Homo sapiens: one gene and its partner. The protein of the gene in region 1 binds, or shares a complex with, the protein of each later gene. Links are inferred from orthologs where the notes say so. Each region holds a gene or a part of one and is shown in the gene's direction. Other genes may lie near its edges.

Evidence for each region.
Region 2: the proteins of SH3BP1 (region 1) and ABL1 are in contact, whole or in part, in a crystal structure (PDB 1ABO), measured with the Mus musculus proteins. The link is inferred for Homo sapiens from one-to-one orthologs. Residues at the interface, in NP_001303613.1 of Mus musculus: Ala607, Pro608, Thr609, Met610, Pro611, Pro612, Pro613, Leu614, Pro615, Pro616; in NP_033724.2 of Mus musculus: Tyr70, Phe72, Ser75, Gly76, Asp77, Thr79, Asn94, Glu98, Trp99, Trp110, Pro112, Asn114, Tyr115.

Annotation. Positions count from the first base shown.
Region 1 is NC_000022.11:37,633,190-37,642,827, forward strand, and holds the start of SH3BP1 (SH3 domain-binding protein 1), read left to right. Parts: upstream 1-6,479; 5' UTR 6,480-6,598; coding exon 6,599-6,657; intron 6,658-7,936; coding exon 7,937-7,979; intron 7,980-8,184; coding exon 8,185-8,289; intron 8,290-8,642; exon of another isoform or gene 8,643-9,349; coding exon 9,350-9,426; exon of another isoform or gene 9,427-9,638. UniProt on the Homo sapiens protein: GTPase activating protein (GAP) which specifically converts GTP-bound Rho-type GTPases including RAC1 and CDC42 in their inactive GDP-bound form.
Region 2 is NC_000009.12:130,827,176-130,843,475, forward strand, and holds the start of ABL1 (tyrosine-protein kinase ABL1), read left to right. Parts: upstream 1-8,078; 5' UTR 8,079-8,271; coding exon 8,272-8,350; intron 8,351-16,300. UniProt on the Homo sapiens protein: Non-receptor tyrosine-protein kinase that plays a role in many key processes linked to cell growth and survival such as cytoskeleton remodeling in response to extracellular stimuli, cell motility and adhesion, receptor endocytosis, autophagy, DNA damage response and apoptosis.

The DNA of each region.
Region 1 (9,638 bases):
GCCTACACCCCCAGCTATTTGCACTCTGGTGTGTGGTTTGACTCTGCTTTTCTTCCGGATTGGCCCTGTGGTCACAGCCTCAGGGGGCCAGGCTGGGGGAACCTCACCTGGCCCGTACTCCTGGGGGTTTCCCTTTGCCATTGGGCCCCCTGAGGGACTGTGGGGGCTCAAGGGTAATGCCAGAGGCCCATGGCCCCAGCGAGGGGCTGTGGGGCACCTAGAGTTCTCGGTGTGTCTCCTTCATTCATTGGCCTCTGCTGGGGCCTCCTATGGGTGTCTTACGTCTGTCCATCCATCTGTCCGTGGTCAGAAGTGGGGTCAGTGTGTGAGTGAGAGCAGGAGTATTTATGAAAATAAAACGTCGTTTTTCCTGGACCAGCTGCTCTCGTGGCCCTTTGGAGGTTGAGGGAGATGGGAGGGGTTGAGTCCATGTTCCCTAGGGCTGCCCTGTAGACCTCTCCACTTCCGTCTTTGGAGGTCAGGCCGTGGGCCCCCTCCCCACCACCCCCCGGGCCCTGCACCGGAAAAGGCCCTGCAAAGGGGCCTGTGGCCAGTGCTGAGTCACCAGAGAGGGCGCTGGGCTGTGGCGGACCAGGACCGTCCCAGCTGGAAGTGGGCGACCGCCAGGGCCTGGCAGGAGCCCCAGCTGCTACAGACACCGAGGGGGAGGCCCCTGGCTGCTCACGACTTCCTCCTGCTGTGCTCAGCCCTCCACACAACCTCGATGCTGCAGCACCCCAGAGGGAAGTCCAAGCCCAGCTTCTCCCTCCCCCCAGACATCACTCCCTTGCCCAGCACCAATCGCAGTTTGTTTGGGAGCAGACCCAGGGACCCTGAGCTGGGCCCCTGCCACTCGCAGCGGCAGCTCTCCCCCACACAGTGCTATCAGTTTTCTCCAACCAGGAGGCTGGGGTCCAAGCTTGGGCGTGGCTTCGAGGCCACACAGCTGGGAGCGAGGGGGCGCTGGTCCAGGCAGATGGGCCCTGTTGTGTGGGAGGCCAGCCCTGCGTGTGGCTCTGCAGGAAAGTGTTCCCTGCTCAGATGAGTCCAGGGAGGCTGCGCACGGTTTCTCCTGAGTAGATGAGCCCATACAGACCCTGGGAAGTCCCTCATTTAAGAAGCCATTTTCACTTTGTCTAATCTAGTGTTTCCCAATCTGAACTTGGCCGCTGAACCCTTCTCCTTAGATATAGTTGTGACATGCTGGAGAATTGCCCAGCACACCCGCATCCCAGCGTGTGTGCTCTTTAACACTCATCAGCAAGCAAGGGGCCCCTCTCTGCTGGGCCCACACTGAAAGCGCAGGCTGAGAGCTCCTCCATGTCCGCCTTACTGCTGAGGGGACAAGAGGCATTAGCTGCACCCTGCGGGAGCCTCCTATCAGATCCCTACAGTGGGACTCCCACCCTGGCACAGCCCTCCAGACAGAGGCTGGCCCCTGGAGGCTTCCAGACACCCTGTCCCAGCCACGTGGCCTCGTTCCTGTTCCCCTTCCCTACCCTGCAGGACTCGCCTCCACACTTGTGATGTCTCCTGAAGATAACTCCGGTTGGAAGTTTCTTCTACCTGAAATGAAACCATAACCCCTGCAGCATCCACTTGGGGTGCCAGAGTCCCACCTCCAGCACAGTCTTCATTACTGGCCATGGCAGGGAGGAGTACAGGTTGGCATGGGGAACAGGTGGGACTGTGAGCTGGGAGTCTGGGGGCTGGTTCTGGCTGGGTCACTGGCTTGCTGTGTGATTTTGAGGAAGATGCTTTCCTTTCTGGAAAAGGGGAGAGGGACTCAATGAGCTATAAGGTCCCTCTGAGGAGTCCTTGGACAAAGGAGCCAGGCTGTCAGCTTTGGAGTGACCCAGGATATTCCGGGGACGGGAAGGTGGGGTCCCTTCAGCCTTTGGACCTTGTCCCTTGCCTTGTCCTTAACCCACCCATCCTGTCAGTCATGCCAGTGTTTCCTGAGCAGCCCCTGGGCCAGCCCCTGTCCTAAGAGTTCACAAGCTGGCAAGGACTTGGGAGCCAGTGTGGCACCCTGAGAGCAAAGACATAAGGTACCACAGAAGCCCTGCATCTGTCTGAGAGTCTGGGGTGGGTTCTAACCAGAGGAAAGGACCCTGGGCCTCCACTCCCTGGAGGAGTCCTTCCCCAAATACCGTGTTGCTGCACAGAGGTCCGGGCCACTGCGCTCTGCAGTCTCAGGGGCTGGGATGCAGTGCACTGGGGAGGCGTGTGCTCTGTCTCTTGAAGGGTGACCCCCAGTGCCATGCCAAGACCAGTGGGACTTCCCAGATCTCGAAGCCCCACTTCCATTTCTGTTGATTTGGCCGAGGCACCAGTTAATTTTGGTTTTCAGCAACCGCATCACACTGTTCGTCTGTTTATGGCAGCCAGGAGAAGTGGCAAGGGCCTGGGAGCCTGCTCCTGCCTAGTCGGTTTTTTGTTGTTGTTGTTTTTACGGAGTTTCGCTCTTGTTGCCCAGGCTGGAGTGCAATGGCACGATCTCGGCTCACCGCAACCTCTGCCTCCCGAGTTCAAGCGATTCTCCTGCCTCGGCCTCCCGAGTAGCTGGGATTACAGGCCTGCGCCACCACATCCTGCTAAGTTTGTATTTTTAGTAGAGACGGGGTTTCTCCATGTTGGTCAGGCTAACTCCCACCTAAGGTGATCCACCTGCCTTGGCCTCCCAAAGTGCTGAGATTACAGGCGTGAGCCACCACACCCGGCCCCCAGTCAGTTTTTTGGTTTTTTTGTTTGTTTGTTTGAGGTAAGGTCTCTCACCCAGGCTGGAGGGCAGTGTTGTAAACACAGCTCCCTGCAGCCCTGACCTCCTCGGCGCAGGCAATCCTACCCTCTTAGCCTCCTGAGCAGCTGGGACCACAGGCGCGTGCCACCATGCCCGGCTAATATTTTTATTTTTTGTATAGAGTTTCGCCAGGTTGCCCAGGCTGGTCTGGAACTCCTGAGCTCAAGCGATCCACCTGCCTCAGCCTCCCAAAGTGTTGTGGTGAGCTACTGTGCCTGGTCTGCCTGGTCTCTCGACATACCCCCTCCCCCAGTCTCTCTGGGCCTTGCAACCAGGGCACCAGCCCAGCAAGGCAGGCAAGAGGAGCCCCCGGACCTGATGCCTATAGCCTCCCATCTTAAGCCTCTGAAATGCCCTGTGAAATGGGAAGTGAGGCTCAGAGAAGTCACACATTATGGGCTGAGTCTGGGCCAGCAGTCTTGAGGTGTCTACCAGGATGGCACATTGCCCCATACCTCCCAAGTCCTCCCCCCAGCCTCTGTCGGGCTGTCCTCTGGGGCTGGGCTCAGGGTACACACTCCTCCAGGGCTATCAGGATTAAAATGGAGTTCTCAGCCTTAGGGCCACCCCAGGATTTCCTGGAAAGTCCTTTGGGCTTGGGGAGGGAGGTGAGGGAGTTTTTAGAGCCCCAGAGATCTCACTATGCCCCTAGCTGCTCTGGGTGGAAGTCCACACAGAGGGCAGCACCGAGGGATACTACAAACAGGCAATTTGTCAAAGTGTCTAAAATGGGATGTTTCTGCTCCTGCAGCCCCTGCTTCCGACCCCCGTTACCACCACCACTCAGCTGCTGACCTCCCTGCCCACATCCTGCTCAAGCCTTACTAGCACATGCTACCCAGACTGTCCCAGGCTTTCACAGACAAATCTGCACAGAGGCTGCCAGGCCCTCAAAGCAACCACAGGGGTTAAGGCAGAGCCAAGGGCCAGCATTTCTGGAGCTCCCAGGCAAGGCTGTCTGGGTCTGGCACAGCAGGAGAGCCCACGTGGGCTTAGGAGACTGTCAGATCTGTTTCCTAACTTGGCCTCTACCACTTTTCCAGCTGGGGACCTTAGGCCAGGGGCCTTGGGCTATTCACCTGTAAAATGGGGACAGTGATACCACCCTCACTGGAGGATATGCTATAGCACAACAAAAAGTCCCATTGTCCTAAGGCAGCTAGACACACACAGGGGTCGTTGGGGCAGGAATGGGGGTAAGGGGTCTTTCCATTCCTGACTTGGCAAGCTGAATAATGATGGTAACAAGAAACAACGCAAGGCACTTTATAAGCATCTTGCATCTATTAATTCACCTAACGCTTCTGTGAGGTAGGTACTATTATTTCCAATTTACTGAGGAGGATGCTGAGGTTCAGAGACGTGAAGTGTCCCACTTAAGGTTACCCAGCTAATGACAGCCACAGCCTGGCCAGCTAGCCTCCTCCACACCCTTAAGCTCTCTCTGTTCCTGCTGCCTGAGCCACTGTGACAGGCACACTGCCGGGTCCCAGAGGCTTTAGCAGGAGCCAGCTAAGACCAGCCTGGTAGAGAATGACCCAAGCCAACAGGCCCCTGGATTGGGGAAGGGCCCCACGAGGGGTTGGCTGGGGAGCTCTGAGGTACCCCTTCTGTGTCTGCAGTTTAGAAAGGCCATGATCCCAACACCCACTGATCAAAACTTCTGAGTCCGTAAGTCTCTGATTACAATTCCTTCTAAGGAACAGCCTATAACCCTAACCCAACCTTTGGGGAGTCCATCCTTCTATGATTCAACATCCAGGTGTGACAAGGGAGGGCCTAAAATCTACCCATCACCCAGCTAGGAGGCACAGCAGCCCCACCCGAATCCGACTCAAAGGCCCAGGGTGTCTCTCCTGCCCAGGACCCTTAGGTCTGGCTGGAGGGGAGTCTGGAGACCAGGGCAGGAGCGCGGGGCAAGAGCTCAGTTAGACTGATAATATGGCTCAGGTAGTTTCCACCACAGCTGCGGCTACAACCCACGTGTACTGACCCCTCACCAGGCCGGAGCTGGGGCTCAGGACTGGGCAAATCTAGGAGAGACAGAGGTGTAAGCCAAACCTTGCCTTCAAGGACTTTCAGACCAGCTACAGAACCAGACAAGCCCAGGCCCGGTGTGGTCTGGGCTGGAGGCTTGGCTGGAACAGAGCAGGGGCACCACATAGTCCAGAGACTTCCCGAGGGACAGGAAGGATGGCACCTGAGGTTCCCTTGCCATGCCACCCATAGTCACTGGCCAGCAGCCTTCCTGTTGGGAAAAGGGAGATGGGGGAGGGAACCTTGCCTGACATCTCATCCTGGCCTGAGCTTTGATCTTGGAGCCTCCCAACTTCCCACCAGGATTCCACACTCAGGTGGGCTCCCATCTGGGAGGCTCTGGCCATAGCAGGCAGCTGTTGGGTTCCCTTCTCAGCTCCTCCCACCCCCAATGAGTCCTGCCTCATTAGGGAGGAGAGAAGCAGCCAGTGAGTGTGCCAGGCCCTGGGCTAGGTGCTGGGAGTATGGAGATGTGTGGGGCCAAGGTCCTGCCTCTGAGAGGCGCCCAGTCTGCACCGGCACACAGTCTGCACCGGCACACAGTAGTGGCTCAAATAGTCTCAAACTAAACTGAAACTAACAAAGCAAAGTGCAGAGGGTGTGGCAGGACTCTGGGGCACACCCTCCCCTCTTCCCCACGCCTGCGGCTCCTGATGCCACAGGGGTGCAGGGTAAGGAGAGCCTACTGTTTCCTAAAGGCGCTCACATCTTGTAAAACCAGCAGTTATGGAGCACTTACTGTATGCCTAACTCTGTGTTGAGTGGAGGGCCAAAGAGGAGAACTACTGAGTTTGGGGGCAGTCAGAGCAGCACCTACATCATTGCCCTACAAGAAGGAAGGGGGACTGAGGCTGTTTGCCAGGAGGAATGAGAGGAGACGGGCTTCACAGATGGAGCAAACTGCCAGGAGATGTGGAGAACAGGGTGTCGCGAACCGCTCTGGGAGGGTTCCTGGTGGCTGAGGGGTGGCACGCACCTCCCTTAAAGGGAGCTGGCAGGGGTGTCTTGTCCACTCTGCAGAATGGGCAGGCCCAGGACAGCTGGCCCATCAGACCATTAGAAACAGCGAGTCCGGAGTTCCAGGGGCTTGTCCACGGCCACACAGCAGCCCGTGGCCCCAGGAAGCCAAAGCTCCCAGCCAGTCATCCAGTGGTGGGGGGTTTAGTTCCAGGGGGCCAGAGGTCCTCTGCGGAAGAGAGTGCAAGGCAGTATCCGCGGCAGGCCCAGAGAGGCCAGGACAGGTCAGAAAGGCCTACCCCTCTTTCGCTTGGTACCCTTTCCTCTTTGCGAGGGATGCAAAGGTTATTTATACTTCGGGTCTGCAGGCTGCGGGTGGGGCAGGCACCCCGCCTGGGGCGGGTTGCGGGCGCAGGGGCAGGAATGGGCTTACCTGCTTCCCGCCACCGGGGCTGGGCGGGGCGCTGCGGGGAGGAGGAGCCGGGCACAACCTGTGGACGGCCGCGGCCGGCGGACACACAGCAGCGGGGGCCCGGCCGGGGGTCGCCCGGGGGCCCGGAAGCCGGGGAAGAGCGAGGAAACCAACTTGGAGAGAGGAGTGACCTGGGGGCCGGGGGCGGAGTCGTGAGCGGGGGAGGAGAGAGCCGGCCGCCAGCAAGAGCCGCGCGGCGGCCCAGGAAGCGAGAGCGCCGCCCACCCATCCGGGGCAAGAGCCGCGCCGCAGGAGAGGCAGGCTGGACCGGGGGCTCCCCGGGCCCGCGACCCCCGCCGTGACCCCGCAGCCCCCAGCTCGCCCCCAAGATGATGAAGAGGCAGCTGCACCGCATGCGGCAGCTGGCCCAGACGGGCAGCTTGGGACGGTGAGTGTCACCCGCTTCCAGCCCCACTCTTACCCCGGCAGGACTTGAGGGGTCGTAAAAGGGTCGGGGGAGACGGGGGTGGGGGAGGCTGGGGACAGCTGGGCAGCCACCCTCTGAGCGGCCAGACTCCTGCTCTCTCTTCCTCCTCTCTGAACGCCGCCCCCGTCTCTCGGGCAGAGCTGGAGGAGCAAGGGTGGCCTTTGGGGGAAGGGATGCCCCCCCTTACCGGATTGGAGGGGGCTTCAGGCGGGAGAATGCTCTCTGCCCTAGGACGCTGGGACTTCTCTGCCTCCACGAGTCTCTAAGTGGATGGTCCTCCTGACCTCACTTGTCCCCTCTGGACAATGGGACAGTTCACCACCTCTGCTTGCTGGGCCGGGGAGGGAGGAGGGTCGATTAGGGCCACAGACCTGGGGCGAGGGGAGGAGATGGGTCCTGGCCTGGTGGGAGGAGGGGCCTGCCCCTGGCCTGCAGCGTCCCTCCCCCTCCCCCTCCCCCCAGCCCAGGGGCCTCCTGCTTCTGTCTCGTTTCTGCTTTTCCTGGACTCAGGTGGAAATATCCCCAGGTCTCCCAGCTCCCACCCCCAGCCTCTGAGCCGGTGGCACGGAGGCCGGAAGTTTGGGGAGCCTCTCAGAGCCTGTCTTCTCTGCTCCTCTTCCCCCAGCCTCAGGAGTTCCCCATTCTCTGGGTCCAGGGAGGGGACTGGGTGTCCAGAGACCTGGTTCTAGTCTCACACTGGCACAGATGCCTACATAGCCTGGACAGTCAGACCACCTTGCAGTGGGCCTTGGCATCCCCCATGTGTCCCCAGGTGGGGGCCAAGGGCCTGTGCACCCCTGCCCACAGCTGTAGTCCAGAGTGCTGTGTGACTGTGCCTAGGAGTCTGAGCTCCTGCACTTCCCGTTCTTGGGGCCAGCTAATACTCCTCATCCCGGGGTGGGCTGAGGATTTGGGAGTGGGCAGAAAAGAGGCTTCTGTGTCCCAAAGCTGGGCCCCGGGTGGGTCTCTCAGCCTCCCCTTTAGTTTCATCTGTCCGCCCTCTCTCAGGACACAGCCCTGGGTGGAGGAGGAAAAACCCATGTATCCTATTCCCACCCCCATGGAATGTGCTCCGACTGGGATGAAGCAACTGGGCCACCCAGGGCAGGCCTCAGCTGGGAGGGACAGTGGAAGCACTGGGGTCCAGGTGCCCTGCTGCGGGGAAGGGAAGTAGGGGGCGTTCTAACCCAGGCAGGCTCAGCAGAAGCACTCTCCCCCCCCCCCCCACCACTCCCCGCAGCACCCCGGAGACCGCTGAGTTCCTGGGTGAGGACCTGCTGCAGGTACGTGCCTGGGCCGGGCAGGTGGGAAGGCAGGCCTGTGCAGGCTGTCTCGGAGCAGAGGGCCGGGGCGGGGACGCCAGGTAGGGGCCTGGGTTGAGTCATTCCTCAAGCTGTTGGCCATGGGGTCCCCAGGGGACAGGAGAAAGTTTCCTGCTCAGGGGGAGACAGCCTCTCTTGATCCTTAACCTCCATACCTCCTTCCCAGGTAGAACAGCGGCTGGAGCCGGCCAAGCGGGCAGCCCACAACATCCACAAGCGGCTGCAGGCCTGTCTGCAGGGCCAGAGCGGGGCAGACATGGACAAGCGGGTGGTGAGTGGGGGGTCCCGGGAAGGAGGGGCCTGAGCAGGAGACTTCCATCCAATGGGGAAGCAAGGTCGGGGCTGGGGTTTCCTTGCCAGTCTGAGTGTCTGGCACCAAGGGCATGGAGACTGCTCTGTTCCAAGGCCCCTCTGGCACTGCACTCAAGAGGCCCTATACCTTCCCCATCACCTTTACCCCACTTCCCTGTGCACCAGTTCCCATAAGCCAAGGCCAGGCTTCTGACAGCACCTGAACTTCTCTGTCCAATCAGTGCGCAAGAGCAGGCTGTCAATGGGGCGGCCTCAGAGGGTTTCCTGAAGGAGGTAGCAATTGAGCTGGCTTTTGAGGGATACACGTTTATTAATCAAGAGGCAGCGTTTATTGGCTGATAACCGCCAGCTTGTTACTAACATATGAGTGCACTGTCTCATGGAACACTGGCACAACCCTAGGGGCAGGCATTGCTTTACACATGAGGAACTGGAGGCTCAGAGATAAAGTCACTTGTCCAAGGTCACATAGCTAGTAAGTGGCAGAACTGAGGTTTGAACCCTGGTCTCTGATCCCAGAGCAGGCATTCCCCGTAACTCCAGATGGGGTGGGAGTGTGGGGCCATGTTTTGGAATCAGTTGACAATTCAGTGTGGCCAAGGCAAGGAAATTGGGAGCCATAGAGCGTTTGAACTCAGCGGTGGCTAGGTCAGCCATATATACCCTGGGACAGGGGAAAGAGCTCCCGCTCCCATTCTCCCTCCACCTGTGTGACCTGGGGCAAGCTCCCTGCCCTCCCTGCATCTTAGTTTCCCAGTCTGCAGTAGGACTTGGTCATTCCTTCCTGCCCAGTCAAGTGGCTTCTGGGAAGAGGAAAGGGCACGCCAGATGGAGAGGGGCTCCATCCATGCTCTCAGGGAAATGTCACCCCCACCACGCCTTGTCATCTTGTTTCCACTCTCATCTGGGACTGTGGCCCTCCTGGGTTCCCTCCTCCCCTGCCCCAAGGGGCTGGCCTGGTGCTCAGGCAGGGTGGAGGGAGGCACGGACACTCATCGCCGGCCCCACCCTCCCTGCAGAAGAAGCTTCCCCTCATGGCTCTGTCCACCACGATGGCTGAGAGCTTCAAGGAGCTGGACCCTGATTCCAGCATGGGGTGAGCACAGACGGGGCCCAGCCCTCACCTGGGGATACCAAGACGTGATCTCAGCTGGGAGGGGGTCCAGGTGGTGAGGGCATCCACATCAGAAGAATGACCAGGCTGGGGACAGTTCCCAGGTCAGTGAGGGTGGCCAGGCCTGGGAGGGTGTTCAGCTTAGCAGAGATGAAGGATATCTAGGAGGGGCCGGAAGTGAGGGAGGAGAGGCC
Region 2 (16,300 bases), on another chromosome or scaffold:
GTGGGCAAAGAGCAGATTTTTTAAAAGTCTGCATACTGAATAGTAAGATTCCCAGCCCTCTTCTAATACCTGCTAGCCAGGGGCCTAATAAGGAAGAGATTGAAATATTCTTTTCTAGGGGGAAAAAGTTGAATGACCCTAGAGAAAAGCCCTACAGATACCAACATTTAGGGATTCTCTTGAAAAAGCGAGTTTACCATCTCCTTTCACTGAAGCTTACCAGTGGCTGTGCCCCTTCCACGCATACAAAACTAACAGTCATCTTTTAGTTGCTCATTCATAGAGAGTGAGTGGCCTGCCAAATCTCTCTAGGCATTAGAGGAAGGTCTCTAACCTGATATTAATAGATAAAGGGTAAAACAAATAGCAGAAAACAGGAACTTGGTGGAAATAAAGACAATGCAGTCAACAGAGGAAGAGTTTAAAAGAACTATTCAGCTTGGGCACCATGACTCACGCCTGTAATCCCAACACTTTGGGAGGCTGAGGTGGACAGTTCACCTGCGGTCAGGAGTTTGAGACCAGCTTGGCCAACATAGTGAAACCCCATCTCCACTAAAAATACAAAAATTAACTGAACATGGTGGCAGGCACCTGTAATCCCAGCTATTGGGAGGCTGAGGCAGGAGAATTGCTTGAACCTGGGAGGCATAGCTTGCAGTGAGCCAAGATTGCACCACCGCATTCCAGCCTGGGTGACAGAGTGAGACTCTGTCTCAAAAATAATAAATAAATAAATAAATAAATAAATAAATAAATAAAGCTATGCATTTCCCACAAATACTGCTTAAAAAAAAAAGAACTATTCTTTGCTATCCTTGGAGAGAGAGATTGCAAATGTCAGAAAACAGGATGCTTTTAAAAACAATAACAATCAGAATAAGAATAAAAATGAATTATTTTTCTTTTATTTATTTATTTATTTATTTTTGATACATGGTCTCTGTCACCCAGGCTGGAGTGCAGTGGCAAGATCACAGCTCACTGCAGCCCCAACCTGCCTCAGCCCCCCAAGCAACTGGGACTACAGGCACGCACCACCACACCTGGCTAATTTTTAAATTTTTTGTAGAGAGATGGGGTCTCACTATGTTGCCCAGGCTGGTCTTGAACTCCTGGGCTCAAGTGATCCTCCTGCCTCAGCCTCCCCCCAAAGGGCTGGGATTATAGGCATGAGCCACCACACCCAGCAAGAATGAATTGTTTAATATTAAAAACATTATAGCCCAAATTTAAAATCCAACAGAAGATGTGGAAAATTGTCTCAGAATGTATTGGGTTGGTACAAAAGTAATTGGGGCTTTTGCCATTTTAATGACAAAAACGTTGATTACTTTTACACCAACCTAATAGAACATAAAGACAAAGACATGGACTGTTGAGAGAACAATAAGAGAGAACAGGTAAGAAAATTAGAAACTCTCGGGAGGCTGAGACAGGATAATCGCTTGAACCCAGGAGGCAGAAGTTGTAGTGAGCCGAGACTGTGCCATTGCACTCCTGCCTGGGCAAGCAACAAGAGTGAAACTGCGTCTCAAAAAAAAAGAAAAGAAAATTAGAAACTCAATCCCAGGGCTTTAATATCCTTTTTGTAGGAATTCCAGAAAGAAAACAAAAAAATAATGATAATAACGAAGAAACAAATGGAGGAGAAGTTAGGAGACGTTAAATGTAAGGAAAAATTTCAGAGTTTAGTGAAGTGAGTATTTTCCAAAACAGAATTATATAAATCTCTGGATTTATGAGTGCCCAGAATAATATATGAAAGGCCATATCATTGTGAAAGTTCAGAACACCAAGAATATTAGAAGATCCTAAAAGTTTCCAAAGAGAAAAAAAGCAAGTCATTTTAAGGGGTCAGGAACCAGAATGGGATTGCATCTCTAAACAATACTTACTGGAAACTAGATAGTAGCAGATAAATAAATGCCTTCAAAGTTCATTTGGGAAAATTATTTTCAACCTAGAATTCTATACCCAGACAAACTGTCAAGATAGAAGAAAGGTATTTTTTTAGACATGCACCCTCCCTCCCCACCTCTGTGAAGCTACTGGATGATGAATTCCAGCAAAATGAAGAAGTCAGTCAATAAGTAGAACTGAGCCCGGGCACGGTGGCTCACACCTGTAATCGCAGCACTTTGGGAGGCCGAGGCGGGCAGATCACGAGGTCAGGAGATTGAGACCATCCTGGTGTAACACAGTGAAACCCCGTCTCTACTAAAAATACAAAAAAATTAGCAGGGCGTGGTGGCGGTCCCCTGTAGTCCGAGCTACTCGGGAGGCTGAGGCAGGAGAATGGCGTGGTGAACCCGGGAGGCGGAGCTTGCAGTGGGCGGAGATCGCGCCACTGCACTCCCGCCTGGGTGACAGAGCGAGACTACGTCTCAAAAAAAAAAAAAAAAAAAAAGTACAACTGAGAATATTTGAAATGTTTTAGTGATTGGAAAAAATATCACTAGATGTTTGACAGATCTTTGAAGTATTTGAGGGAAAATGGTGATAGGTATATAGAAGACTAAATGAAAACAAGGCAATATCTCTAGGATAAACAAAGATGTATAATAAAGGAAACATTCATAGTATATTATTGGCTAAGCAGTGAAGAATATTTATATCATCCTAATAATGTAAACACTAACTATTGATTTATCCCCCAAATTGTGATTTTATTGTTTTGGGGGGTTATGGATGGTGATAGTATAATACTGCTGTCATAAGTTAATAGATAATGGATAAATCTAATGAATTCAGAAAGAGCAAGATGATGTTACTAGCTAAAAATCTGAAGGAGGCTGTCTCTGCGGAAACATACAGGGGAAAGGGATTGCTGTTTTTTATTACCAGATTTTTACAAGACTATTTTTAGCCTTTTTTACAAGACTTTTAGTACTGCTTGAGTTTTAACCATGTTATGTATATTACTTTGATTAAAAAGAAAAATTAATTTAAAAAAATGAGCATACTAATACCATTAATTTTCTCCTTCTAGAGAAAAATGTTTAACAGTTAGGTTTAGACTTGTTAATTATAAAAATATAGTAGTCTTACTGTAATGAGATTTTCTAGAAAGCGGATTTACTCTAAGGCAGTTCAGATTTGGTCCCCAGCTGAGAATTATAGCCTGGAAATACCAACAGAAAAATCAGTGTCATTTGAAGGACAGTCATCTGTGCAGCCTGTGCATGAAATCATGGGTCTGAATTAGGCCCCCATTCAAGATGCGGGGGTGTGGGGTTTGTGTTTTGCTGAAGCTGTGGTTGCAAATCTTTGCTTTAGGATGAAAGGTGGGGCTCTCTGTTACATTTGAACCTTAGTTGCTACTCCTACCTCACAGCTAGTGTTTCTTTCTCTTCATAAAATAAATTGATTTCCTGGTCCCTTGGAAAACCTCCAGACTGCTTTCTGGAATCATTTTCATATAGCATGTTTGTTAATTTGAGCTCTTGACTGAGTCCCAGTGAGATGTAGGCAGGAACACAGACCTGATACAGAAATAGTCCTCTTTTGGAAATAACAATAGCTACTGTTTATCGAGCACCTTCTGTGCTTTGGGCACTCTCCCTACATGATTCCTAATCTTCATAATAACCCTGTGAGATAACTACTCTTATGACTACCTCCCATTTTTCAGATGAGAAAATTGAGGCTCTGAGAGGTGAAGTCGTTGCCCATGGCCCCACAGTGAGTGGCAGATCTGAGACTCAGCGCTAGCCTTTGTGACACATAACTCGTGACCAGCAGGTAGTGCTACCCGATTGAAAAAATGTGAGACTTAAAGGGATGCATGTGTCCCTATACAGTGGCAAAAACTGGTATGACAGAAGTGATGTTTTAAGCTATGTTATCCTTTAGTTGGACATACACTGGACCCACAGAGCTAGAGTACCTGGCAGGCTCTTGCTGGACAATGTTTGCTGAATCAGAGAAAGTGGGCTTTGTTGGCATTTGCATGTGAAATACTGTGCACATACCTCAAGATCTTTGCTGTTCCCCCCCTAAAGCTACTAGCTATGCTGGAAACAGTGAAGGGGTCAGCCAGACCTGGGGTCACCTTGTCCTGGGGTCCCAAGCCAGGCCTCCTGTCAGGTTCATCTGTCTCTGTTCCACCTGCACTCACACCCAGTCTTGCTGCTGAGAGATGGAGCATCCACATCCTGAATCCTGCCTCCTTCCCTTGACACACTTCTATGGTGGGTGCCTGCCCAACTTTTTCTTAATAGGACTAAATTCCAAATTAAAAAAAAAATTCAGTCTCTCTCCTCTAATCATCCAAGAAGAGTCCTCTTTTGGTAACTTGTTCTAGAACTATGCCTATCTTAAATTCAGAAATTGCTTTCAAATGAATTAAATTTTAGAAATATCCATTCCTGTTCGTCCTATTCCCAGTGAAAATAAGCAACTCTTCCCTCTTCCAAAACAGTGGATTTCTTTTCTTTTTTTCTTTTTTTGAAATGTAGTCTTGCTCTGCTGCCCAGGCTGGAGTGCAGTGGTGCAATCTTGGCACACTGCAACCTCCACCTCCCAGGTTCAAGCGATTCTCCTGCCTCAGCCTCTCGAGTAGCTGGGATTACAGGTGTGTACCACCATGCCTGGCTAATTTTTGTATTTTTAGTAGAGACAGGATTTCCCCATGTTGGCCAGGCTGGTCTTTAACTCCTGACCTCAGGTGATCGCCCACCTTAGCCTCCCAAAGTGCTGGGATTACAGGCGTGAGCTACTGTGTCTGGCCCCCAAACAGTGGATTTCCATCTTACATATGCATACAGATCATCTGGGAGCTTCAGATCCAGCCCATTACACATATTCTGATTCTAGACTAGAAACCAAGACTCCGCATTTTAAGCAAGCCCCACATTATTCAAAATAGATTGTCCATGGATTATGCTTTTAGAAACATTGTTCAGATCCCATGCTTTAATGTTGGGGAGTTTATCCTTTCCTTCTAAATATTTTTTTTTTTTTTGAGATGGAGTCTCGCTCTGTTGCCCAGGCTGGAGTGTGGTGGTGCGATCACTGCTCACTGCATCCTCCACCTCCCAGGTTCAAGCAATTCTCTGCCTCAGCCTCCCGAGTAGCTGGGATTACAGATGCCCGCTACCACGCCCAGCTAATTTTTTTGTACTTTTAGTAGAGATGGGGTTTCACCATCTCAAAAAAAAAAAAAATCTTAAATAGCTCTAGTTCCCTGAATTATTTTCTCCTAAGACATGTTTTCCCAACAGTTAATGTTACTTATTTCATCTTCTGATCTTACTCATATTATCCACCTTTCACTTAAATTGGAAATTTTCTGCCATTTTACAAAGTTCAAGACTTTCCTACCTTCCTACCTCCTGGCTGTGTGAACTTGGACAGAATACTTCCCCCTCTCCCTCCAGTCAGTTTTCTTACTTGTGAAATGGAATTAAACTATACAAAATCATTAGGTTACTGTGAGGCTTAAGAGTGCCTGGCACATATTACATGCACATTAAAAATGTATTTCTTCCCAAACTAATGCAACATAGCAAACAAGTTAGTTCACAGTCTTTAATTTCTTTCCTTTTCCCTTTCTTTTTAGCTAATAGCTTTTGGGTCTTAGGCTGATTAGAAGGAATCCTTCTTGGGGTGTTCTTCTGGTAAGAAGATTGAAGCTCTCCTTTATTTGCTTGTAACAGAATGCTCTTCGTATCTTTCAAAAGCGTCAAAAGCTGGATATGGAAAGTATAGGCCAGGTTTGATACAGAAGTGTAGTTTGGCAGTTTTTTCAGTATCCATTGCCACTAATTCAGTATTTTGTTAGATCTGTTGATGTATGGTTTTATAACTAAAATTAAAAAGATTTGGGTACAGTTTATAAGCATTATTCATTTTAAGAGGATTTAAGAGGATAAGATCATTTTAGACTCAAGAGCAGAATATTAGTAATAATAATTAGCTTAAAAAAATAAACATATACCAATATAAAGAACAGCACAAGGCAAGCAAATATCTGGGCCTATATTAACAGACGGTATTCAAGGATATGGCTAGAATTTCCAAAATGCCTAATAATGTGTAATTCTTGGCATTAAGCCGCCAATTTGAATATGGCCCTTTAATATGAAATGCTATATAATGACAGACTTTATTATAGTCTGATCCAAGGCCCCTGAACTTTCCAAAAGGGCAACAAAACAGACAGATACTGTATTTTTTCACTAGTTGGTACTGGTGGCACCCTTTTGAGTGTTATTTTTGGCATTACGTGTAGAGGTTGACAGATTCAAGACAACACTAAACATGTTAGCAGTCACCACACGCAGGCTGTCCAGCAGAATGACAGCGCTTCCCAGATCCTAGAAAGCATCCAGAGTCACTGCACCCATCCCCTGGGGGCCCTGTAGTCCTGCATCTCCAGATGATGGGAGCTGCAAACTTCCCTGATGGTGCCCTCTTGGATGCTCATGAGGCCTGATCTGGTACCACGACTCTAGCAGTAGGTCCATTCAATGGCAGTAAAAATACATGTTGTATGTTGATCAGAATTTGGCAGGACACATGTGGAAAGTTAATGACATCCTGGCCGAGAACCCCTGTGATATACACTGGTTACATCCTGTCCAACTGGAGTTTTTATGTGCTGTTTTTGGCAGAGCCAAGTGAAGATCTTGTTACTTAGCCATTCCTGAGGTACTGAAGATACCCGGGTTTTTGTCATTACAGGATAGGCTAGAAAGTAGCCAGGGTCTCATAACCAAGGCTTTCTCTGAAACATATAATGACAATGCTAGTTATTTGACCAAAGATATCCAATGCTTTAATCCACTTGGAATTTATTCTTGATGTGAAGGGTCAGCATCATCCACTGGTCGGGAGCCTGATCCTTGGAGCCAGGCAGACCTGGGTTGAGTCCATCTCCGCCTGTTTCCAGCTGTGGGCAAGGTGTCTGACTTCTCTGAGCATCTGTGGGGTTTGTTTGTTTTTAAACCTGAAGAATTGGGATAATCTGTTTCCTCACAGAATCATTACGCAGATGCAATACAGTTAATGAAGGTAACATGGCACATAGGAAGAGCACAATACACGTCAGCTCTTACTCTTCATGGCTAGAAGATGTGGACTAAACTTCCCCCTTTACAGTTTTGTGATTAACACCATTTATGAAAGAAATAAATGAAATAAATTCCTTTTCCTGTCATGAGGGGAACTTACCTGATTTTATTGAATTATTTGGTGCCATTGAGTTCCTTATTGTTTCCCTCTGACCTAGATTTCTGGGTGTGCGCCAGTAACACGACTGTGATTGTTGCTGCTTTATAACATTGTCTGTGGTCAGTCCAAACAAGAGTTTAAAATAATTGAATGAAATGGATTTTAAACAATGGTCCCCCCACCCTCACCCCGTGGCACTCGGCCAAAGGAAGAGGAAAAGTTCTCTGTTAAAGAAAATGAATCAGAGAAGAGGCCCAGACCGTGCCTCCGAAAATTCTCATTGTAGGGACTAAGTCCTCTCACTCTGAACTCACACCCGTCTGTTCGCAGCCTGACCTCATATCCTGGTCTGGATGTGCGGCCTCACCGGGGTGTCGTGCGCACGTGTGGTTGTCCTGTGGGTGCCAGCTCTGACTTCCTCCCCAGACACCCACTGCCTCAGCCTTAATCACAGGACGCGCGTTGAGTAGAAATGAGACCAGTTAGTATTGGTAACTGCAGAGGAATATGCATTTTCACCAGCGTTCTCGGGTCAGAGGGTTTGCCTGGCACCGCGTACTGGGAAACTCGCCAAAAGCGGTGCAGGTTGGAGACGCCCCAGGCCGCGGTGGAGTTGCGCGCGGCTTCTAAAGTGGAGTGGAGCAGGCCTGCACCCTCCCCGCCGGGGCTGGGACGGCGCTTCCAGGCGGAGAAAGACCTCCGCGGGCCGCGCGCGGCCTTCCCCCTGCGAGGATCGCCATTGGCCCGGGTTGGCTTTGGAAAGCGGCGGTGGCTTTGGGCCGGGCTCGGCCTCGGGAACGCCAGGGGCCCCTGGGTGCGGACGGGCGCGGCCAGGAGGGGGTTAAGGCGCAGGCGGCGGCGGGGCGGGGGCGGGCCTGGCGGGCGCCCTCTCCGGGCCCTTTGTTAACAGGCGCGTCCCGGCCAGGCGGAGACGCGGCCGCGGCCATGGGCGGGCGCGGGCGCGCGGGGCGGCGGTGAGGGCGGCTGGCGGGGCCGGGGGCGCCGGGGGGGCGCGCGGGCCGAGCCGGGCCTGAGCCGGGCCCGCGGACCGAGCTGGGAGAGGGGTTCCGGCCCCCGACGTGCTGGCGCGGGAAAATGTTGGAGATCTGCCTGAAGCTGGTGGGCTGCAAATCCAAGAAGGGGCTGTCCTCGTCCTCCAGCTGTTATCTGGAAGGTAAGCCCGGGCCGCACGGGTTGGGCTGAGTAGCCGCGCGCCCTCCCGCTGCTGCTGGGCCCTTCCTAGGCCTCGCCGCCCGCGCGCTCCCGCCTGCGCCCTCCCCGGGTCTTGTCTTTTTTTTCTTTCTTCCCTCTTCTCTTCTCTTCTCTTCAGTTCTCTTATATTCTGTCTCTCTTTCTTTCTCTCTGTGTCTGTCTCTTTTCTCTTCTCTTGTCTCTCTCTTTTTCTCTCTCTCTGTCTCTTTCTCTTTCTCGCGATGGCCCCTAGGCGCCGCCGGCGGAGCGTGGCCCCCAGCCCCGGCACCAGCCCCGGTAGAGCCACGCCGGATGGTGACGGCGGCGTCCGGGGCCCCACAGTGCGGGCTCCCCCGAAAAAGTTTGAGAAAGCCAACTCGCCAGGCCTTAACATCCCTGGGATCCCACGTTGTGGAATTTCCACCGTTAATTGGGACTGTGTGTTAAAAAGATCGACCCGTGTTTGTGAAAACATGCGATTTCCATTAAGCATCATGTACACAAGGAGCACCACTCTACCATTTATGGATACAGAATTTCAAGTGATCTTTCCATCTCCCCCACCCCCATCTTATCTACAGACCACGAAGAGGTCTTAGGAATTCGCTCTCTTTTCAGGGGAGGGGAGCCCATTTAAGAAGGCGTTTCCAAGGAGTCCCCCAGAGTACTGGGGTGTCATGTTCGTTTCCTTAAGTGAAGCTCAGGGCCAGGAGGGCTTCACTTTTGCGTTCTTTCTACCTACTCTCCTTCTCTAATTACATCTGTTTTATTTTATTTTTCTTTCCTGTTGTAGTCTTTAGTTTTATAAATGGAAAAAAAGTAAATTAAGGGTTATGGGTCTTCACTTTCGTAGCTTCTAGGTGGGTATGAAATTGATCTGATTTGAGACTGGTGCTCCCAGACCATTGCCTTCAGCAGAAAGGCTATCTGTGCTTCAGAGATGGAGTGGCACTTGGACTTCTCTGTTGTTTTCAACTAAGAATATAAGAGTAAAAATGTGGCCGGGCGCGGTGGCTCAAGCCTGTAATCCCAACACTTTGGGAGGCCGAGACGGGTGGATTATTTGAGGTCAGGATTTCGAGACCAGCCTGGCCAACATGGTGAAACCCTATTTCTACTAAAAATACAAAAAATTAGCCGGGCGTGGTGGTACACGCCTGTAATCCCAGCTACTCGGGAGGCTGAGGCAGGAGAATTGCTTGAACCCGGCAGGGGGAGGTTGCAGTGAGCCAAGATCGCGCCACTGCACTCCAGCCTGGGCGACACAGCAAGACTCGGTCTCAAAAAAAAAAAAAAAAAAAAAAGAGTAGAAAGAAATGTGAAGCTCACTTTAGATCAAGTAGGATTTCTGCTAGAATGCCATGTTTTTCTTTTTAAAAAAGCAGGAGAAATAAACAGGCCTCATTTATTTTCTAACCTATTTTTCTTTCCTTAACCTCTGACTCTACCCTGAAGGCCTGCTTGGAGTCACATATGCAGATCGCACTAGTGATGTGGGTGAAACCTGTTTGCCCTTCTTGCCACAGTTTGTGTACCTCACTCCTCTTCTGTCTCTGGGATTCCAGGGGGCTGAATGGCCCAGAGAAGGCTCATCTAGGTGGAGTGGGCTCACAGAGCCTAGCATTTGGAGGGTGGAGATTGTTTATTTGTCCCTAAAAGTTGATGTCTGAGCATTCCAAATCATCTTCAATTAATACATCGCTTATTTTTTCCAAGTTGCTCAAAATTCTGAGCACATTCTCATTTACATCTGTATCGAGTTAGTGTTAGGCATCATCATCTCCACTTTGCAGATGGGTGCCTAAGGCGGGGATGAATGGACTTTTGTAAGTGCAGAGCTGGAGCAAAGTTTAGGTCACAGCTTTGCCAAGTCATTGTTTTGTTTTCCTGGGAGTAAACCGGAGATTTAGTATGGACCTGGCTGGTTTAATTATTGTTTTGGGAAAAAAATCTAAAACTCATTCCAACATGTCTTGAAATGAATTATAATGTTGACTCTAAAGTCTCAAAAAAAAAAAAAAGTTCTAGTACAGCAGACTGCCTTGGGTTAAACCTTCTTCTAGGAAGGTGTCACTCTAGGAATTCTTTCTTACTGAGTTTTCTTCTTTTCGTTGTTATAGTTAATTAGAGAAAGTAAATGGAATTATCATTTTGTAGTTGGTAGACTTTAACAAGCCTCAGCGATAGTCTTTTAAAGACTGGAAGTGCTATTTGTCTTTTGGGAAAAATAGTTCCTAACATCTGGATGAGTAATCCAGGCTTTCCACTTTCACTGACAGCCTAAATCAGTCAATCAGTGTCGATCAGTCAGTCAGTGTTTATTGACGCCCACTCAGGGTCCCAGGCATTCCCTGTCAGGGAGAGAATTGAATGAGATCAAGTTTTTCATTGTTCTATCAAAGAAGCTTCCACCATAAATGTGGTTTGATGGTGCATGCTACCTGCTACTCAGCCTAGCTGTCAAAGCAACACTGGTAAACATAAAGATGGCTAGCAATTATTAAATGCTTACTATGTGCCAAATACTGTTTTATTACTCTATGTGATCTGATATAGTTATATTTCATGATAGCACTATGATTATTTCCATTTTATAGATGAGGAAACTGAGTCACCAAAAGGTTAGGTAACTTGTCTAGGGTCACAGAGCCAGTGAGTGGGGGTACTGGAATTTGAACTCATGCTATCTGGCTTGGGAGAGCCCACTTTTAGCCACTGGATGCTCTACTGATGTCTCTTTTGGAATTCACTGTGATTTTCAAAATGGTATCTCCAGAAACTCCTCCAATTAATCCCTGAAATGTAAGGGTAGTCTCTTTTTCTTTTCTAGAAACCTGATCCTGGCAAAATGATTAGCTTTAACAGTAGGATTAATTTTTTTTAAATGTATATAAAAATACTTGTATGTAAGAAATCCTAAAAGGGTATTTAGTGAAAAGTAATTCCCTCTCCTATTCATTTTCCCCACCTAGAGGCAATCACCCTGGAGTTTTATGTGTGTCCTTCTAGAAATACTGTGTGCACATATAAGCATTTATTATAACATGTGAATTTTGCTCTCCAGCTTTTTGTGAATATGCATGTTTATAGCAGTATCTATTCACCAGGACCGCATTTAGCTTTGCAATATTCGGTCTACTTTGAACACTGAATTTTCTGATTATTTCTTTCCCCTGGAGACGTCAAAGAAAACATGAACACTAGCCTTTTGAATTCAGGGTTTTCTTTTCATTTTATTTTCATTTGTTCATGTGTTTGTATTTACATACATTGTGCCTGAATATTGTACATGTATGTGACAGTTGTGTACTGTAGAATCAAAAACTAATGTCTGTGAACTGAACTCTTCTTGAACTTTTTGTTGTTGTTGTTATTGTTGCTTTTGGAGATAGGGTCTTGCTCTGTCACCCAGGCTGGACTGCAGTGGCACAATCACAGCTCACTGCAGCCTTGAGCTCCTGGTCTCAAGCAACCCTCCCACCTCAGCCTCCCAAGTAGCTGGGGCTGCAGGCATATGCTACCTGACTAATTAAAATTTTTTTTTTTTTTTTGTAGAGACAGGGTCTCACTATTTTTACTAGTTTGCCCGGGCCAAGCCAGTGTTGAACTACTGGCCTCAAGTGATCCTCCCACCTTGGCCTCCCCAAAGTGCATCCCTACAGGCATGAGCCACTGCACTCAGCCTGAACTTTCGAAATTTATTTTAAGGGCCCACTTTTAAATGCTTCTTTTCAGCAGCTAACTTTCCAGCGGATGCTTCATGTGGTGCCAGCCATACAGATACGCTTTTAGAACTTGAGCTTTGGAGAAGCTTATGCTTGCTTTCTGCTCTCTCCTGAGGTCATCAGATACTTCCCTTGTTCAGTAACAAAGAAAGTGAGACTCTTTCTGTTACCTAATAAAAGGCCAGTCTGTCCATTTCATTTTGGGTGCTATTAACATTGTTGACCATTTACAATGTCACAGGCCCTGGCACTGAGCACATCATGTGCAGCCTCACTTAATTTTCACACCAGTGCCCTGAGGTTTCTAGAAAAGAGGAAGGGCCCCAGTTTAGGTGGCAGTACTTTTCAATTTGGAGGCAGGAGATCCCAGTTTTCCTCTGACCTCTCTGAGCTTCCGTGTTTTTACCTCTAAGACAGAGAGACCAATCTCTGTTCAGCCACCTTAGAGGATTGTTTTGAGGGTCTATAAGATGATTGAGGGAAAGCTCTGAAACTGGTAAGAGTTAAATGTATGTTTGTGTTATGTTGATACGAGATTCCTCTGAGATGCTCTTTAGTCCAGGCAGGTTTATGGCTCACACAGCGTTCCTAGGGTCTCATTCTTCTGCACAGGCAGGCAGCTCCCGAGCCAGCCAGTCTGGACCCAAATGCCACCTGTGCTCTTGGCTGGTCTTGCGCATTCACCGAGGCTCACTGTACCTTGGTGTTCCCATTTCTAAAATAAGGCCTGTAGTAATCCCTACCTCACTGAGTTGTTGAGAGACTTCATGTAAATTGTTTAGCAGGGAGCCTGGCACAGAACAAGAGCCTAGCAGAAAAGTAAGCTGTTGTTACTTTAAGCAAATATTTAGCAGCCTAAAATGGTGGCTTTACCAGTTTCTGTAATGGTTGAAGTGATGACAGAATTCAGCCAATCCCACCCATAGTTTTTCTTGCTAATAAAGCAGTTTGTTTCTAAGTGTGTTTTGATGCGTATAATTAATACTTCCTGTCCTTGATTTTTGGCTGAAAAATGTCTTCTCTTCCTCGCACCCTCTGTTATTCCCGTAGTGAATATTTTCATTGTGGAAGAGAAATTCCCATTGGCTCATGGTTGGCATTTTATTTCTCCTGTCCAGAGACAATATTTCCACAGCCTCAAACGTGAAAACTGAAAATCTGGTGCCACTTACCACCTTGTAAAATCAAGTCATTGTAATTGTGCCAGTATAATCATTGATCTGAAATAAAAGCAGAAAATAAATCAATGGGTAGCTTTCTTAAATACATAAGAACTAAAGATCAAATGGGATATTGGAAGACTTTAACTTTTCCTCCATAATGGTGGATCTTAATTAAACACACAGAAGAACAATTTATAAAATAAATTCATAGGTTTGTTTGTTCTTTTTTAGTGTCAATTTTTAAAACTATCTCTTTTTTAATTAAAAAAAATAGAGATGGGTCTCACTATGTCGCCCAGGCTGGTCTCAAACTCCTGGGCTCAAGCAATCCTCCCACCTCAGCCTCCCAAAGTGCTGGGATTACAGGCATGAGCCACTGCACCCAGCCTAAAACTGTCTCAAAAGTAGACAGCATAATGAACTCCCATGTACTTATGATGTGGCTTTAACAATTATCAGCTTATAGTCAGTCTTGTTTTCTTACATAATAAAGTTACAGTTTCAAAGCCATTAGGAAGAATAGCTTGCTAATTATAATTACTTAGTTTTGATAGTGTAACTTTGTCCTCAGATGGGTAGAATCGTTACTCTGGAACAGGGGTGTCCAATCTTGGCTTCCCTGGGCCACATTGGGAGAAAAATTGTCTTGGGCCACACGTAAAACATACTAACGATAGCTGATGAGCTAAACCAACAAAACAAATCCCACAAAAATCTCATTTCTTTTTTTTTTTGAGACAAGAGTCTCACTCTGTCGCCCAGACTGGAGTGCAGTTGCACGATCTCAGCTCACTGCAAGCTCCGCCTCCTGGGTTCACGCCATTCTCCTGCCTCAGCCTCCCTAGTAGAGGGTACTACAGGCGCCCGGGGGTTTCACCATGTTAGCCAGGATGGTCTCCATCTCCTGACCTCGTGATCCGCCCACCTCGGCCTCCCAAAGCCCTGGGATTACAGGCGTGAGCCACTGCACCGGGCCAAAAATCTTATAATGTTTTTAAGAAAGTTTGCAAATTTGTTAGGCCACATTCAAAGCCGTCCTGGGCCATATGCAGCCCGTGGGCCATGGGTTGAACAAGCTTGCTCTAGAAATTGGTTTTCAGGCCGGGCGCGGTGGCTGACGCCTGTAATCCCAGCACTTTGGGAGGCCGAGGCAGGTGGTCACCTGAGGTCAGGAGTTCGAGACCAGCCTGGCCAACATGCTGAAACCCTGTCTCTACTAAAAATATAAAAAATTAGCCAGGCGTAGTGGGGAGTGCCTGTAATCCCAGCTACTCAGGAGGCTAAGGCAGGAGAATTACTTGAACCTGGGAGGCAGAGGTTGCAGTGAGCCGCGATCTCACCATTGTACTCCAGCCTGGGCAACGAGCAAAAACTCCAGCTCAAAAAAAAAAGTTGGTTTTCAAATCCTTCTTTCTTTACCATGTTACACCATAAATATTTTTGTTATATTGCGTGTGTTGAGTACTGGTGATAGGGAAGACAGAGAGAAATAGGTGGGAAGGAGATAGAGAGAGAGAGAGGGAGGGAGGAAGGGGAGACATAAGGGGGAAATCTATAGAGACAGAGACTGAGAGACAAATACAAAAAGGTTGAGACAGGAAAGGGAAAAAAAAACAAGCTGGGAGGGAAGGAAGACTGAGAGAAGGGAGACAAAGAGGAATAGGATGGCCAGTGGGGCTGGGGTGGGTGGGTACAGAGAGAGAATGAGTGAGAGCAAGAGAAGCGCAGGAGACAGATGATGGACAGGCAGCTGATGTATGGATGGGTAGCTGGAGAGAGAGGCCATCAGTAACTTCACATCTCTCTGTTTCCATTTCCTGCCCTCAAATGCCTTCATAATAGAGTCTACGTAATAAGGTTATAGGGATTCAGTGCAGATGAAGTGCTGGCACTTGATACGGGATCAGTAAGTATTAGCTATTATTCTATCACATTAAGTTGCATAAACTTTAACCTCATTACTCTTAAATTCTCTATAGAAACCTAGTCTTTATCTGTCTTACAAGCCCTCAAATTTAGCTAATAGCGTTGTTCATTGAATACCTTAAAATTGTATTTAAAGACAGGCCGTGAATACAATTAGGCATTGCTTTTTGAAGCCAAAATACCATGAGGGTGGGGAGGGTCATGTTCATTTACCCAGATCAGCAATAAAAATACTAATGGCTAACAAGGCTTTCTGGGGAAATTGCCTGTCATTGGGTAGCCCAGTGCCTCTGGTGTCAGCTGACCCCGGAGTCCATGAAGACATGTTAAAAGAAGAGGAAATGTGAATGCTTTCAAACCAGCCATGGCTGGCAGCAGAAGGGGAGGCCTTTCAGTCTGTTGCAAATGGCCTGTGACAATAAAAATGCCTTTGTGGGTATTAGCAGGCTGACTGTGGACAGTCTGGATCTGCGGCCACTGCAGGGATTCCTGGAACCTGTTGGGAAGGTGTCCGGCGAGCTCACTGTGGTGTCTGTTAGGAATCTGGAGCAAATCCTATTTCTTTTGAAAGCACAGAGAACTGTGTTTTTACATTATACCTTTAGGATTTTGGCCATGGTTTATATTTCAGTCAAAACAAATCATTATGTTCCCTAGGCTTTTATATAGGTTTTCCTGGTCAGGTTGCATTTGTTTTTCAACTTTACTATCTGTCATTATTGCTGCTCTTATTACAGGTTAACAGATTATTAAACTGCACTTTTCAGTACCTTGTAGCTAAAGACAGACAAGTGCAGGGTGTTCCACATCTGAGTTCACCCAGCAGTGCTGTGTTGTTGCGTTGCACTGAGCAGGCACAGAAGGCTCTGAGATATGAGAGACTTGGTCTCTACCCCAGAGGAGTTTACATTGTTGTGGTGGCAGAAGAGAAGGCGTGGCATAAGAGAAGACGCGGTTGTTCTGTAGTGAGCATCCCAGTGTCAGGTGCCACAGTTGGCATCCATGCAGAAATTCTCTGCATGCAGGATTCATTGAGCCCTCCCGACAGCCCAACTAGGTTGATGCCATGCCGTTGTTGCCCTGTTGTGCAGTTGAGAAACTGAGGCTCAGAAACAAATG